2 separate regions of the Homo sapiens genome follow, and region 2 is linked to region 1. A link means that fine-mapping ties the variant in region 1 to the expression of a gene that starts in the linked region. Tissue or cell type: whole blood. Region 1 holds a variant in brackets; the other region holds the start of a gene. All regions are shown on one strand. Distances are from middle to middle.

Evidence for each region. PIP is the estimated chance that this variant, and not a neighbour inherited with it, causes the effect.
Region 2: WFDC2 starts here. The variant in region 1 is fine-mapped to the expression of WFDC2 in whole blood (TOPMed, PIP above 0.99). The same link has a PIP of 0.9 or more in cerebellar hemisphere, cerebellum, hypothalamus, nucleus accumbens and prefrontal cortex.

What each region holds. Positions count from the first base shown.
Region 1 is chr20:45,426,032-45,428,791 of GRCh38, reverse strand. It overlaps PIGT (phosphatidylinositol glycan anchor biosynthesis class T), which reads right to left. Exons shown (of 12, transcript NM_015937.6): 12 at 2,551-2,760. LOC105372631 (a long non-coding RNA gene) reads right to left here and starts at 1,370. Exons shown (of 4, transcript NR_159957.1): 1 at 1,247-1,370. The variant G/CACG (reference allele first, on the strand shown) is at 1,352.
Region 2 is chr20:45,468,275-45,470,774 of GRCh38, reverse strand. It overlaps WFDC2 (WAP four-disulfide core domain 2), which reads right to left and starts at 1,022. Exons shown (of 4, transcript NM_006103.4): 1 at 915-1,022; 2 at 243-386. The coding sequence starts at 993. RefSeq lists silencers at 98-147, 168-357.

The sequences.
Region 1 (2,760 bases):
GTGTGAGCCACGACGCCCGGCCCAAATTTTTACTTTTATTATAAACTCAACATATACTTTTGTTTTAAAAAGACAAACAATACATAAATTGTTATAAAGTTAAAAGTGAGTTCTCTGTTTTACACAATCTTATTCTGAAAAGTATCCATTGTTAGAATGCTTAGGAGAGACAGTAAGTTTTCATACTACTTTAAAAATAAGACCAAGTTCTTAAGCTTGGCTACACATTGGTGTCACTTGGAGACTCTGTGAGTCCCACATTAAATTCTGATTTAACTGGTTTGGGTAAAGCCTGGGCATCAGGATTTTTTCAGTTCCCCAGGTGAATGTAGCGTGCTAGGATAGCAATTTGAAATAGGGTATGGCCAGGGAAAACCTCACTGATAATAGTGGAGGTGGTGAAAAGGGGTGGGATTCTGGATTTATTTTGAAGGTAGGGTGCAAACAGGATGAGAGAGAGACAAGGATGACTCAAAGGTATTTGGCCTGAGTGCCTGGAAAGACACGAATTACCTTTTACAGAGATGAGGTGACTATGGTTGGGCCTGTTTGGGGTGGGGTGGAGCACATCAGAAGCTCGGTTTTGGAGATATTCAATTTGAGATGTCTTTAGACATCCAAATGGAGAAAGCAAGTAGGCAGTTGGGTAAATGAATCCAAGATCCAGGGAGGAGGTCTGATCTAGAAATATGTGGGTGTTGCCAGAGCGTAGGTTACATGTGGCATGGTAGTGGAGGTCGTTTCTAGGTACTGACAGGGCTGCGGGTATAAAAGAGAGCCAGGCCACAGCTCTGTGCTCTTCTGACTTGGCAGACACCCCATGCTATGCATGCTCCATCCCACACTAGGCACACTACACAGACCACTTAGCTTTGTGTATCCACTCACCTGCGTTCCTGTCTCATTTACAGTCTGCTCCTTTACTGCTTTTGAAGTAAACTCAAGTAAAAGCACCTTGAACAAATTGCCTTTGCCCATGGTCTAGACTAGCTCACCGCCTTTCCTTCCTACATATGCACACATACCACCCGCATGTGCTGAGGGCTCCTAAAACCCTTCAAGGAACCTACACAGCCCATCTATGCTGGCTACAGAGACACCTGTACCACTGTGTTAAGACTGCTGCACTCACACATGTGGAGCTTCCAGAGTGCCCCTTGCCCATCCCTATCTTGGATCCCAGATCTCAAGCCAGAATAGCCCATACCCAGTTAATACATTTAGCGTTTGCTGATTGAGCACTTACATGTCCTGAGATGGGTCAGGTCTTAATGAAAGACAGAACCTGTGCCTCCAGGAAGCACACCATCTGGTGGAAGTCAAAGGACAGCAGCCAGCTGATAAGGAACAC[G/CACG]TGTTAAGTCCAAGGCAATCTGGAAGCAAAGGCGTGGGGCACGGACACGTCAAGGGAAACTTCCCGGAGGCAGCAACTTCTCATCTGGGGTGTGTGTGTGTGTGTGTGTGTTTGAGACAGAGTCTCACTCTGTCACCAGGCTGGAGTACAGTGGCGCAATCTTGGCTCACTGCAACCTCTGCCTCCCAGGTTCAAGCGATTCTCCTGCCTCAGCCTACCGAGTAGCTGGGACTACAGGCGCGCGCCACTATGCCCAGCTAATTTTTTTTTGTATTTTTAGTAGAGACGGGGTTTCACCATGTTGGCCAGGATGGTCTCGATCTCTTGACCTTGTGATCTGCCCACCTTGGCTTCCCAAAGTGCTGGGATTACAGGCATGAGACACCGTGCCCGGCCAGCCTCATCTGGTTTTATGAGGGAACCAGGCAGTTGAGAGGTGTGCATGGTTGGTGGAATAGGGCATTCTAGGCCAAACCACTATGATGGGAGAACTGAGTGGGGTAGGAGGTGGGGGGAACTGCAAATAACACACAGTTGATGCCAAGTGTGCCAGAGGAAAAGACAGAAGATGAGGGCAGTGGGAGGCAACCGCCTAAAGGCTTGTTTTACAGAAATCCAGGGTTATGTAACCAGCAAGGGAGGTGGGCGGGGCGGGCTTCAATCCAATGAGCCTGGCTTCAAAGCCTGGGGGTGGTCTGAGGACAGAGCACAGCAGGAGCTCCTGAGAAGCCTGCTAAAAAGTCAAAGTCTGGGCCACACCCAGACCAACTGAATTAGTAGGATCTGGACCCCAGGAACATACATTATTTTCACAAGTGCCCCCAGTGACTCTGATGCACACTACAGTTAGAGACCCACCACCCAGAGCCCTCCCACCTCTCCACTCTACCCTTGCTGATGTGGACTGACTCTCAATGCCCCCAAGAAGTAGGATGATTCATTTCCATGGCCATGGATTATGCTTTCAGAAACACTCCCAAACAACCCGGGGAGTTCTGGGAATCACAATCAGATGGGGATGGGGAGGACAGGGGGAGCAGATCAGGAGAAGAAATTTCCGGCCAGGTGGGAGGAGGTAGGGTTTTTTGTTTTTTGTGGAGGGGGTTGCAGGCATAGGGTAGGAGGTCCTGTTCAGGCACTCAGCAAACAATCCCCAGTCCCCAGCTCTTCCCAGGACTCAAGGACAAGAGGCAAAGAACCACGGAAACAGCCGTTTTTATTCCACAAACAGTAAACTCCATCCACTACACAGTGACATACACTGTGTAGCACACCCCATCACCTTGGCCAGTGCTGCCAGCCGACCTTTCTGTGGTGATGGAAATCTTTTTCTGTGCTGTCCAATACAGCAGCCACCGACCACTTTTGCTTATTGAGCACCTCAATATAGAGGTGGCCACTACAGGTGA
Region 2 (2,500 bases), 42 kb before region 1:
TGCACCAGAGACTCGAATCCCAGCTAGGGGTGGGGACCCCCCCTTGGCTGCGTTTCAACGACGCCTTTGTCTACCCCTGGGCCGTGCGAGGGAGAGGACTGACGGATCTGGTTTCAACCGCCTTGACTTTCCCGGGGGTCCCCGGGTCCGGGGGCGCCCCTGTTCCCGGAACCCGGGCCCTCCCACCTCCTCCCAGCCCAGCGCGGCCCCGCCCCGTTCCCGCTCGGCCGCCGTGGGGTTACCATTGGGCAGAGAGCAGAAGGTGGCACAGCCCGCGCTGCAGCACTTGAGGTTGTCGGCGCATTCGCTGTCCGAGACGCACTCTTGCGTGCAGTTCTGGTCAGCCTGGAGCTCGGGGCACACGCCAGTCTTCTCTGCTCCTGTGCCTGGGAGGGGAGGCCCGGGACAGTCGAGGGTGGGGCGTAGCGCCAGCCCCAGAGGATGCCCACCTCCTGCTCCAAACCTTAACCCCAAGGAATTCTCAGTCTCTGGCCCTAGGAGTCCCCTTACAGCCCCCAGAGACTCCTTCTTCCAGACCAGGAGTCCCTGACCCCTGGGAGTACGAGAGCTCCCTAACCCTTGGCGTCGGGGCCCTCAGATCTCAGCCCTAGGGGACGCCGCACAGCTGAGCGTCTCGGAGCTTCCGAGGTCGAGGCAGAGCAGCCCCCACCCCCAGCCCACTGCAGCCACGGAGTGTCCGCGTTCAGCACAGAATCCTCCCAAATTGCAGCCATCAGTGGTCTCTCCACCTCCAGCACATTGGACCCCACACCCTAGGCTCCAAGGGTCCCCGCCACTTCCGCCCCCGGAATTCCCACTTCCCCAGCCTCCAGAGGCTACGCCTCCGCCTGGCTCCATCCTGGCGCTCGTGGCTCGGCCCCTCTAGGCGCCGGGCCTCTCCCCGCCCCACTCACCTGAGACTAGGGTGAAGCCGAACAGCAGCAGGCTGAGGAGGAGGGCGGCGGCTAGCGGGCCTAGGCGACAAGCAGGCATGGTGCTATGCCCGGGCGGGGTGCAGGTGTGAGCCGATGCTCAGGTGCGGGGATTTAACCGCGCGCGCGGGAGGGGGCGTGGGGTAGGGGTGGAGCCGAGCGGGGAAGGGGAGGGTGGAGGGCTTTGCGGGCACCGCGGGCGGGCTGCCACATGAGGTCATTTCACAATCCCCCAGGATCAGGTATCACTCTTGGCCCCGGTGGGAACCAGGAACTTAAGCAGCTTCCAGGACGGGACCAGCTACGGCCGGACCCTTGTCCACGCCTCCCTCCTGACCTCCCTCCTGGGGCCTGAGGGCCAAGGCTCAGGGCTCCTGGGTTTCTATTCCAAGACTCCGAGGTTTCTCCAGAGTGTCCCCAGTGGGCGGTTGAGGAGGATAAGGCAGGGCCCGCAGGGAGGCAGTAGAGCATGCGGGTTAAAGGGTTCGATTTGGGGTCAGCCAGATGAGAGGGCAGATCCCTCTTGATGGAGGGCTAGGGTAGTGATACAGAGCACATAGTAGGGGCTACAGAAATAGCACTTATTATTAATAAACAAACCCTCCTCATCAGAAACAGGCCCAGGAAGGTGAAGCACCTAGCAGTCTCAAGCCGTTTGGGTGTGTGTTTCTGTCTCCCTCTCTTTGTCCTACCGGCCCCTGATCAGGGCTGACTGTGCCAGGCTCTGTGCTCCTTGTCTCAAGGAATTGTCGCCGGTCCTCTGACCGGGGAGTTACTGTTATCAGCTGTATATGACAAAGGAACTGAGTGTTTAGGGATTTAGGACCGCACCTCCACCACAAGGTCCCCTGCAAAGCTGTACAAATAAGGTTTTGAACCCAGGTCTCTCCCTCCAGGCCCTTGTTTTTTCCATTCCGTCGTAAATATTCACTGGGTGCCTACTGTGTGACATATGCAGGGCAAGACGCTTGGTGAAGAGAAAGTCGTCAAAAGGGGCCCTCCAGCACTGGTCTTGAAGGGGTGACAGGGTCTGGGGTCTGACTCCCACCTCCACCACTTCCCACCTGAGGGCCCTGGAATGAATCCTTTCCTGGATCTGAGCTGCCACATCATCAGTGAAAATGACACCTATATGGGACTTCAGTGAGAACACAAATGCAACGTTCCTGCCACGGAACAACCATGTACTCACTGGGAGCATTGAGAGTAGATCCACACTGATTGACACAGGGACTCCAGGCCTGACCCATGATAGGTACTGGATACATGGCCATGAGTGCTCCACAGATAAGTGTCTCCTGTGACGAAGGAGACCAATAAGTATAAATGAAGCTTTAGAATCCAGGGGGTTAAGTGCCAAAACAGAGTTACCCAGGGAGTTAGACAAGAAGTGCTTCCTGCTCCAATGATCTGAGGTTCTAGAAGCCCCAGGAGGTCTTTGCTGCTGGAGGCTAGAGGGGCCCTGGGGCAGTGAACACTGGGATGATAGTGACAGGTGAGTAGGGTTTGGTGATGTGAGTACATCTGGCCACTGTCCCCAAAATGGATGCTGAGAACACCTCCCCCAG